3 linked regions of the Homo sapiens genome follow. The protein of the gene in region 3 purifies or fractionates together with the protein of the main gene of each other region. This does not show direct contact. Each region holds a gene or a part of one and is shown on either strand. Other genes may lie near its edges.

What was found.
Region 1: the proteins of GATD3 (region 3) and GLRX5 fractionate together in Homo sapiens (co-fractionation; one large-scale study listed by BioGRID). This does not show direct contact.
Region 2: the proteins of GATD3 (region 3) and PPA2 fractionate together in Homo sapiens (co-fractionation; one large-scale study listed by BioGRID). This does not show direct contact.

What each region holds. Positions count from the first base shown.
Region 1 is NC_000014.9:95,537,897-95,541,549, reverse strand, and holds part of GLRX5 (glutaredoxin-related protein 5, mitochondrial precursor), read right to left. Parts: intron 1-3,653.
Region 2 is NC_000004.12:105,442,910-105,446,562, reverse strand, and holds part of PPA2 (inorganic pyrophosphatase 2, mitochondrial isoform 1 precursor), read left to right. Parts: intron 1-60; coding exon 61-180; intron 181-3,653.
Region 3 is NC_000021.9:44,136,616-44,140,268, forward strand, and holds part of GATD3 (glutamine amidotransferase-like class 1 domain-containing protein 3, mitochondrial isoform 1 precursor), read left to right. Parts: intron 1-561; coding exon 562-681; intron 682-3,634; coding exon 3,635-3,653.

The sequences.
Region 1 (3,653 bases), on a different chromosome or scaffold from region 3:
ACCTGCCTGTTCTTGACAGCAGCTGACGGTTTATCAAAATTAAACTTAGCTGCTTCTTTAATTTTTAGATGAATAGGTGTAATAGGCAGCTGGCATCAAGGCCAAACGTTGGCACCCTTCTTAATGACTATGCTCTTTTCCATTTTTAAGAAAGTTGATTACCAGTTTAAATATTTAAGGAAATACCCAATTGCTTCCTATAGAGTGAAGTGAGAAACTCCTAATAATAATAAAAGACTACTCTTCATAAGTTGAATATTAAAATGAATCCTGCGGATCCACAAGTAACTGTTTACACATGGTTAATCTCTCTCACACTTTAGTTTTCAAAAACTGCAATATGCAGTGGTAGTTCTTACAAATATCACTTGAAATTAACTCAGAATCAGAGAGCTACTCCTGAAAATTAGAAAATCACATCCAAGAATGAATTTTAATGATAATCATTATTTCATATGTGATAGACGGTGGTGATTCCATCTGGGGCAGAAAATGCTGACTGCAAAGTTATATGGCAGAGTAACACTAGGAACTGGGAGTTAGGAGGCTATCTTACAAAGTCAGTTTACACGCATCTAATGCTCCACCAAAAAAACCCATACAAACAAATTCATATTCCAAAGTATCAACCCAGAAAGAGTACAGAAATGATACTTTAAAATTCCCTTCCAGAACTTTCAAAAGGTATTTTTCAAAATTCATCACATTCAGAACACTGGGCATTACTCCTGATTTGGACACTAAATTACGAGAGCAGCATAATCATAGTTTTCTTTCTTTTTATTTTTCCTGGTAGAACCTCACTACAGTAGCTTCAGAATCTGATATGAGTTCCAACTCTGTCTCTTACCTACTAGACTCTGTGATCTTGGGCAAGTTACACCACCTCTGAGAGTCACAATTTCTTCATATTCTCTAATTTAGAGAATGGCGTTAAGTCGAGATAAGATGATCTGAGCTGAAAGCACGGAAATCAGTAGACCCTCACTAGAGGAAAAGCAAGGCACGGGGCAGAGTGGGCAAGGCACAGGCTTAAGGATCAGTAGATCTGGTTTGCTAGCCTGTAAATGTAGCCTCAGACAAATCTGTTAATCTTTTAGCCTCAGTTTCCTCATCTGTAAAATGGGAATATACTCTACGCCTCACATATTATGAAGATTCCATGATATCTAAGGAATGAAATGAATTGAGCTCCCAGCATAGTACCAGGTACAGTGTGGACATTCTCTCCATACCAACATGCTCCACCACCCACCCTTCACAGTAATGCTTTTCTGAGAAAGGCAACAGAAAAAGCATAGGAAAATAAAGCAGGAAAAAGTGATTAAGTATACCCTAAAGTAATGAAAACGCCATTCAGGCCAGGTGCGGTGGCTCACACCTGTAATCCCAGCACTTTGGGAGGCCAAGGCTGGTGCATCACCTGAGGTCAGGAGTTCAAGACCAGCCTGGCCAACATGGTGAAACCCTGTCCCTACTAAAAATAAAAAAAATTAGCCAGGCATGGTGCCAGGTGCCTGCAATCCCAGCTCCTTGGGAGGCTGAGGCAGGAGAATCGCTTGAACCCGGGAGGCAGGGGTGGCAGTGAGCCGAGATTGCCCCCTGCACTTCAGCCTAGGCAGCAGAGTAACACTCTCTCAAAAAAAAAAAAATATATATATATATACCATTTATTGAGTTAAGGATTACTGAGTTTCATACTCTTTAAGCGTTTTACAAAAATAATCTTATTTAATCTTTACAAAAATCTGACAAGGCAGGTACAATTATCCCTACTTTACATAAGATGAAGAAACTAAGGCTCAGAAGGGTTAAGTAACTTACCGAAACTCACAGTGACAGCGCAGTGAAACCAGGATTTATATCCAGGCTTCCAGGAGTACAAAAGCCCAGACTCTTAACCACATGCTACCTGAGTCCCTCACCAGAGGTGGCCTCTACCCTCTAGCTGCCATCTCACTCCTGCCCAGGAGCTACAAGTGCACTGCACACATATCTGCAATATATGGGACTGTTTTATGCCTTTAACATTTACATATACAAATGGTATTATGCCATAATTACGTGTTTGCAACTTGCTTTTTGACTAAATATTGTATTTTTGAGATTCAGCCATGTTAAATACATCTAGATCTAGTTCATTTTAACTACAGTTTAGCTTTCCATCATGTGACTAAAGTTTATTTATCTGGTCTGCTGCTAATAGACCAAGATCCCTTCCTGTCAGTTTTTCATTATTGCAAGCCATGCTGCAATGAACGCGCCAACACAGGTATCCTAACACAGAGGTCCCCAACCTTTTTGGCACCAGGGACTGGTTTTGTGGAAGACAATTTTTCCACGGACCAGGGAAGGGTGGGGATAGCTTCGGGATGAAACGGTTCCACCTCACATCATCAGGCATTAGTTACATTCTCGTAAGGAACGCACAACCTAGATTCCTCACATGTGCAGTTCACAATAGAGTTTGTGCTCCTATGAGAACCTAATGTCGTCACTGATGTGGCAGGAGGCGGAGCTCAGGCGGTAAAGCTCACTTACCCACCGCTTACCTCCTGCTGTAAGTCCTCGATCCCTGGCCTGGGGGTTGGGGACCCATGTCCTAACACACACATGCAGAAGTCAGTCTCTAGGCCAGGGACAGATAAACTATGGTCTTCAGGCCAAATCCAGTCTACTTCGTAATTAAAGCTGTATTTTCATAAATAAAGTTTTATTGAAACTCAGCCTGCTCATTCATCTACATATTGCCCATGACTGACTTCAGGCTATATAACAGCAGAGTTGAATAGATGCAACAAAAACCACACAGCCCACAAAGCCTGACGTACTTAGTCTCTGGCCCTTTACTAGGGTAAGTTTGCAGATCCCCCTCTCTAGAATATATACCTAGGAGTCACGCAGCTGGGTCTTAGGCTCTGTTCACCCATAGCTTGACTGGGTACTGATAGTTACTCCTCCAAAGTGTTGGTACCATTTTATACTCCCATCTGCAGCATACATGTGCACCACACAAGCACATACACACAACTTGTTATCCAACTTTTAAGGTTCACCAGCATGACATGTTTCACTACTGTCTTCAATTCCCTGATACTGAAAAGGTGGAGCGTATTTTCAAATGCTTAATAAACATTCAACAACAGGATATGGTTATTTATTCAACAAATCATTTGAGTCCCTATTCTGTCACTGTTCCAGATGCAAGGACTACAATGATGATCTAAATCGGCAGCAAATGTTTATAATGCCTTTAAGGCCGCAGAGTTTGCAATATAATGATAAATAAAAGCAGTATTTATTTATTTATTAAAATGCTCACTGAAAGCTTGCTTTGCATAAGCGGTACACACAGCACCACAGGCAGTGGCATAAGACATATTCCCTCGTCTCTGGAGGGCAAAATACTATGTATAGACAAGCATGGTCTCAATGTGTTAAAAAAAAAAAAACTGTTAGGAACTAGATCTAAATGTTAATACAATAGTTTCCATAAATTACAGGTGATTTTCCTTCTTTAAACTTTTCAGTGTTTTCTACATTGCTTCCATGAGCATAAGTTCCTTTATTAAGACCAGGATTAGGAAATGATGATGTCAGTCTACTGGGACCTGATCCCTTTGTGACTGTCTTCTGTGTGCACTCCAGATAAA
Region 2 (3,653 bases), on a different chromosome or scaffold from region 3:
GGACATAGAATTAATTATTTCTTATCCCATCTCCTTTTCTTCCTTCTGTGATTTGCTTAGATTGCCACCAAGGAGCCAATGAATCCCATTAAACAATATGTAAAGGATGGAAAGCTACGCTATGTGGCGAATATCTTCCCTTACAAGGGTTATATATGGAATTATGGTACCCTCCCTCAGGTAACATTTTTGTTACAATGGTAAAATGTTCCTGTCTTCTGAAAAAATTGCCTTATAAATCCTGTGAACTACTGAATTTAAATTGGTTCTGAGGACATGTCATTTGGAGAGGTTTGTAAATTTGGAATTTATTAACGTGGATGGAGTTTTAGTATATCAATAAATTTTGTTTTAAACCATATATATGTCTATACTCAAGTTCTTGGAGTCAGGCATATGGAATGTTCACATTTGACATTTTGAATACATTTTTTTTTTTCTGGTCTTGCCTATTAAGTGTCAGTGAAAAACTTTTAAGCGAGGCTTTATCTACAGTCATTCCTTTGAACATGACAAGTTATGCTTTTATACACATTCATATATGATAGCACAAATTTTATATTTTAAACTTTAACAGATGAATGTGTTAAATTATTAACTTTTTCCTGGAACTCATTGTAAATTGAATTGCACAACTTATTTACTGTTATGAGTTAATAATTTTTAAGTAGAAAGCAGAGAAAACAAGAGCTAAATAATGATAAGGTAGCATTCCTGTTGGAGAATAACAACTATTTGCTTTTCTTCCTTTCTTTACCTCTTTTGGTTTTCTCTCATGTTTCCTCATTCCCAGGAAGAGGTAACTCTTCCAGATTATTTAGTGAGTAAAACTCAGAATATGCTGAATCAAAATTCTAGGTTTTGGGGACACAGAGAACCATCTGCCTTTATGTTTATAAAAACCATAGACCATCTGTCTGGAAATTTAATTTTTATATTTTTATTTATTTTAATATTTTGCATGAAATTTCAAGATGGTATTGGGGAAATATCTGAGAAGAGAGGTCTTGTTTTATCCAACATGAAAAAGCAGCTGCCCGTGTAGAATAAACATTCACAGGAAAATTTAAAAAAAAATTGTTTTCTAAAGAGTCAGGCTGTCTCTGATTCAGTTAGATCACCCACATGGATACATTCTTGGTTAAAATGGGCACTTCTAAAGTGATATGCTAAGAATGAGAATGCCTGTGGAAACCATGAAAGCAGGTTTTCTAACTCTCCAGGTACTTAAATAGGTATGCTGTTTGACCCAACAGCAAAAGGTTGAAAAAGTTCTGTAAAGCTTAGGGGATGCAGCCTGTAGGAAATGTGTGGATGAGGGTAATGCTGAAGAAGCCAATGAATTAGAGACAGACAAAAACAGAGACGTAAGTAGAGGAGCTAGAGAATAAACTAAGGTGCATGTATTTATTTCTTTAAACATTTATTAAGGATTTATGTGCTAGGCAGGATATTAGGTGTTGGGTATATAAAGACAGATGGGATATAGATGTGACATCAAGGCCTCATAATAAGTGACTGGAAAATGTGGGTTTGGGAGTGAGATTGTCACTTTCTAGTAATGTGACCTTGGGCCTTGGGAAAGATACTTTTCCTCATTTTCTTCATCTGTAAAATGGAGAACATAAAATATCTACTTCTTATCTTTGTGTTGAGATTAAATGAGTTACTGCATTTGAATAGTGTGTAACATGTAGTAATCAATTATTGTTATAATTAAGACTGGTACTTTTATTATCGTATGGTTCTTTCCCTAAAGTTGTTTTTAGTCTGATTGGGGCAATCAAGAACTAAACTGCTGGTTATGATGTGGTATAATAGGCACTACTAATTCATCTACTAATTTAAAATTATGAAAAAAATAAAAAAGCAAACCTATTGACAGGAAAGAGAGAAGGGGAGGAACGGAGGTAAAAACAAAAGAAGCTTCTGTAGTTTTCCATTTAAAGTCCTGCCAAACTTCTGTGCTCCTCTGGATGTGTCTGGATTTCCAGATGTTCTGCAGTGGTATTAATCTGGCAGGTACGGTAGTTCTTCTACTAATAAAACAGAATTAGACTGTGGTAGTCCCTTAATTCATTATTCACCCTGCATTCACCATTGCCTACCTAAGTTTCATACTCCATCCAATATCCAAATTGATATTTTTAAAACACAAATTTGCAGATGCTTTTCTTGTACAAGAACACCTTAATGGTCTCCTGTTGCTTAAAAGATAAAATACAAAATTCTTAACATTGCTACTCAACCCTGTGTGATCTGGCCTCCGCTTACTTCTCTATCCTCATTTTGCAGCATTCCCCCTTTCTCACGTCTATCCACCACAAAGTCTTCTTCAGTGTTTCTAACTTACCTCATTGTGTCCTCACCAGGCCTTCACCAAACTGTTCATTCATTCAGTACATATTTATTAAAGGCCTGTATATTTGCAAGGTGTTCTTGTAAGTACTGCAGGTAAAGCAGTGATAAAAAGTGACAGATATTTCTCTGGAGCTTTTATTTTAGTCAGATAAACAGACAATAAACAAAATAAACCCCAAGTAAAATGTCAGGTGGTGGTAAGTATGTCAAAGAAAAGTTAAGCAGGGAATGGGACTAGGGGATATTAGGATTGTTGCAATTTAGACAGGGAGACGATCTCAGTGAAAAGGTGTTATTTGAGTAAAGATCTAAAGGAAGTGAGGGAACAAGTAGTGTGGACATCTAGAGGAAGAGCAGTCCAACAAGAAACAGCAAGTATAAAGGTCCTGAGGTGGAAATAGGCCTAGCATGTGTGAGTATCAAAAAGGAAGCCAGTGTGGCTAGAATGGAAGTGAAAGAGGAAATAGACCTGCATTCTGTCTGCCATTTTCAATTAGAGATCTGTACTACTTTTTTAAACCTGACTGATCTTGGAGAGAGAGAGAGAAAAAGAGAGAGAGAGTCTGTGTGTGTGTGTGTGTGTGTGTGTGTGTGTGTGTGTGTGTGTGTGAATACACCATAAATTGCATATAAGTTAGTTATTTATCAAAGAAAATAACTAAATTGAATGATGTTTTTAAGAATGCTGAAATCATGCCAATTGCTTATGGGATAGCTTATGGAATAGCTCTACCTGATTTTTTTTTTTTTTTTTTTTCTGCTTGATGGTTGATGTTCAGACATGACCCTGTTAAAATGAAAGCCAGCCCCTGGTCCCATTTATCTTTTTAATCTCATCTCCAACTCTCCTTCTGCCTTCTGCTTCTTCACTTCCACACTGGCACTCTGGTGCTCAAAGCACACTGATGTCTCAAGCCCTCACCTTCACTGTGTCCTTTCCTGGGAACACTCCTTTCCAGGTATGCACATGGCTTCCTTAGGTTGCCTTTAACTCATCTTCTTCATAGTATCTGCCAATCATCCTTTAAAACTTTTAACCCTACTCCCATTCCCCCTCTCATACTTTATTTCCCTTTTCTATAACACCTGCCAAATTGTAACCTGCTGTATAATTTATTTATTATGTTTATTGTTAATTTCTCCCAGCTAGAATGCAGACTTCATGAGGGCAGGTATTCTGTCTCTTTTGTTCACTGATACATTCTGACTACCCAGCTTAATGCCTGCCATGGAGTAGGTGATCAATAACTGTGAAATGAATAAATTAATGCATTGTGTATGTGTGTCACATT
Region 3 (3,653 bases):
CGGACCACGAGAGGTCGGAGCTGGAGATTCGAGGAAGAAGCCATAGCTGCCTCCTGGGGCTGTGCTTCTCACCAGTGGGGACCCCTGTGATTTCTTTTCCTGCCTGGGACCCTGGCTTCTGCACCTGGACTTGCACCTTCGGCCCCCACACCTGGGGGCTAGCAGCTTCCTGCGGTGGCTGGCCTTCGGGTTGCTTCACTGGTCCTGAGTCCTGGCTTCTTACCTTCCCCTCTGAGTCCCACCGTCCTGATGAGTGCACAGAATTCTGTCTGCTTTAGACACTCGGAGAGACTTCCATTTCCCATGGGCCTTGACTGCAGAAGATTCAGAGTGATTTGGCGCAGGTTCTGAAGTGCTGATCGGAAGAGCCCAGCATAGATTTAGCGTTGCTAGAACCATGTTGTCTTTCCAGGTAGTGACCAAACATGCTGACCTGGAAGTAAGTCCCCGTGTGGCTGAGAGCCACGTGTGTGGAGCGTGTTGCCTGTGGGCTGTGCCCCTGCCGCGCTCCACAGTCCTTCACCTGCATGCTGAGGCTTTTTGCCCTGTGCTCTTTCCCAGGAATGTTTTGACCGAGTCTGCGAGGATCGCCCGTGGCAAAATCACAGACCTGGCCAACCTCAGTGCAGCCAACCATGATGCTGCCATCTTTCCAGGAGGCTTTGGAGCGGCTAAAAACCTGTGCGTATTTGAGCTCCAAGGTCTTCCGCTTTCCATGTGGAGCAGATGGGAAGGGGGTGCACCTGTCTGCTGTCCAATGTGGTCAGTGGAGCGGCGATGGGAGGGGGTGGTGATAGGAGCAGTCTCTGGGTTTAGGGTCTGGGCAGGGCACGTGCCTGCCCTCTGACTTGGGAGCTGTTCTTAGGGTTGGGTCTTAGGTAGCGTTGTAGCGAGCCATGCTTTTGTTTCTGCTTCTCTGCTGCCTCTTCTCTCAGCATTCCTGGTACCCAGCAGCTTGTCAGAGTGGGTTTGGGGCTCCCTCTTATCTCATCACTGTGCTGTAGGTCTCGTCACGTTGAAATCAGTCTCTGAGTATTTACTCCTTGCAAGTGCCAGTTTTTTTTCTCTCTCTCTCTCTTTTTTTTTTTTTTTTTCTGTAGAGATGAGGTCTTGGTCTGTTGCCCAGGCAGGGATGCAGTGGCACGATCCTAGTTCACTGCAGCCATGATCTCCTGGGCTCAAGCCATCCTCCAGCCTCATCCTCCTGAGTAGCCGAGACTATAGGCGCATGTCACCATGCCCATGGTTTTGTTTTTTTTTTTTTTTGGCCATGTATGTAGCCCAAATTGGTCTGGAACTTCTGGGCTCGAGTAACCCTCCTGCCTCCCAAAGTGCTGGGATTCCAGGCCTGAGCCACCGCGCCTGGCCCCAATTCTCTTATGGAACCTTGCAGGATCAGAAATGGGTTTCCTTCTTGGTAGTTTGGGCGGCGGTCCTGACAGGAAGAAGGGAGGCCGCCTTGGCGTGGCTGTTTTGGTAGCTGGACCGTGAATCATGGAGGCCTGGCTGGCTCCCACACGGTGGCGTCCTTGAGTTCCAGATCCTCTTTCTGTTCTCTGTGTCTCCTCTCTCTCTTTGCACATTCATGGAGGTTCTCTGGGCACCGCCCCCATGGCCCTGCCTGAGAGGTGGAGGTGGTGCCAGGCTGACCCTCCAGGGACAGCTCTGCCACCTGCAGGAGCACTGGCCACAGTGCATCGGAGCGTGCAGGTGGCTTCTGTGCCATGGTGTGGGTGGCAGCCCCAGCACGGCCGGCCCCGGTCGGCAGCTCCTGTTTCAAGGGCAGGTTGGAGGCTGGCTGGCCGCTTGCCCCACCCTGGGCAGCCTGCACCCAGAGTCGAGGGGTAGGCAGTCTCCATCCGAAGAATGCGCCCCTCCTTATCCCGAAACCTCAGAGGCCTCCTTCCTCAGATGCCAGCTGTTTTCTCAGTGCCCTTGGCCGTGCCCTCACCCCTCTCTCACCGGAAGCCCCACCCCAGCCTGTCGTCCCCGGTCTCCTGAAAGCCAGCAAGCCTCGTCGGTGCCGCCCACACCCCTGACCTCACGCAGCCCCACGTCAGGCTCGATCTTTTGTCCAGTTGTCCCTGCGTCGCTGCCGTCTCCACGAGGCTCTGACCACTGACACCGTGTGTGGCGGGGCGCAGGGGCAGCTGGAGGGTGTGCTGGGGGCTCCGTGCCCTGGCATGGCTCCTCCACATTTTGCCAACCCAGAGGCACAGGCGTGAGGTGTGTGGTGGTTCTCAGGGTCAGTGGGTCTTGGCCTTGGCTTTCAAGGTGTTGATGGGCCCTGGGACTGATGTGCCCGTGTGTCTGAGCCCACGTCCCCTGGGCGAAGCTCCCATTTTCACTGACCTGTCCAGAGCGTTCTGGGTGAGCCTGCCCTGCGTGTCCATGGTGCGGCGCGCTCTAATGAGCTGCAGCCGTGGCCACTCTGCACCCTCTGAGACAGTCACCCATGGGGACGGCGAACACCCACTGCCTCCAGAAGATTCCCAGCACTCTGCCAGCAAAGCCATGTGGAAAATGCTGGGGCAGAGGACTGGGGTGCGTGAGGGTGGCGTAGAGCCCAGGGGTGGGTTCGTGGGAAGGTGTGTCCACTTGTAGATTTGGTGGCATTGCCAGATCACACGCCCCATGGGCAGTGTGGAGAGACCTCCCCTGCCCCGCGTGCCCTCCACAGCTCCTGCTCCTCGGCCTGAGGTGTGGATGCTGGTGTCGCAGGTAAACTGGCGTTTCTTTCACGGTCATCGAAGCAAGAGTGCTTGGTATGCCTGGAGGCCGACTGCGTTTCTTTTTTTGGGAACTCCTGGAGTTTCCTGCTGCCCCTTTGTTTTAAGGAAAAACTCTCACACCGTGTTTCTCCTCCTCCCACCACAACAGTTGTCCACACAGAAGGTGGGTGTGAAGGGTCTTCCCCATGCACCACGCAGGGGTCGCTGCTGCCTTCTAATTCAGTTCCAACAGTATGGACCCGGGGTAGCGTCCGATCGCACGGGTTGAGGGCTCCGTCCCCAAAACTGCCCTCTGACACATACCGGTAAACTGTCTGAGCCTCTGGAACTGACCAATTGGCTTCAAGTTGGGGTTCCCACAACCCCGTTTGCTGGCGTGGCTCACAGTGCTCAGGGAAACATGACGTCAGCATTCTCCCCCGGGGAGTGGGGGACCCTCTCAGGAGAGGGTCCTGAGACCCACAGTCAGAAAGGCGGGGAACATTAGAGTCCTGCTTTGGGGCAGGTAAAGGGCAGGCGGGAAGGTCAGAGGCTGCCCGAGGCCCGACACAGCCAACGTCGTAACAGAAAGCTAACAAGCAGCACGGGAGTTAGGAGCCGGAAACCAGCGTCTGAGTCTCAGCACCGCAGCCCGGGTTCTGCCAGCTGCTCCGGAAGGTTCCAGGGCGTGGGCCCTCTCGCCCTGGTGGCCTCCTGCTGCACCACTTCCTGATCCTCCTGCTTCCTATGCTTATTTCTGTTTAAAAAACAGGAAAATATGTTCACATCAAACGCGCATATGTGCAGCCATGCCCATGTCCCTTGCTGCAGCTGACTGAGGGTCTGGAGCTGTGCCTAGGAAGCCCCCCAGGAATAGACCCTGGTTGTGAGGCTGTCTGAGGAGGCCTTTTGTCTCCCGGTAGGAGCACGTTTGCCGTGGAC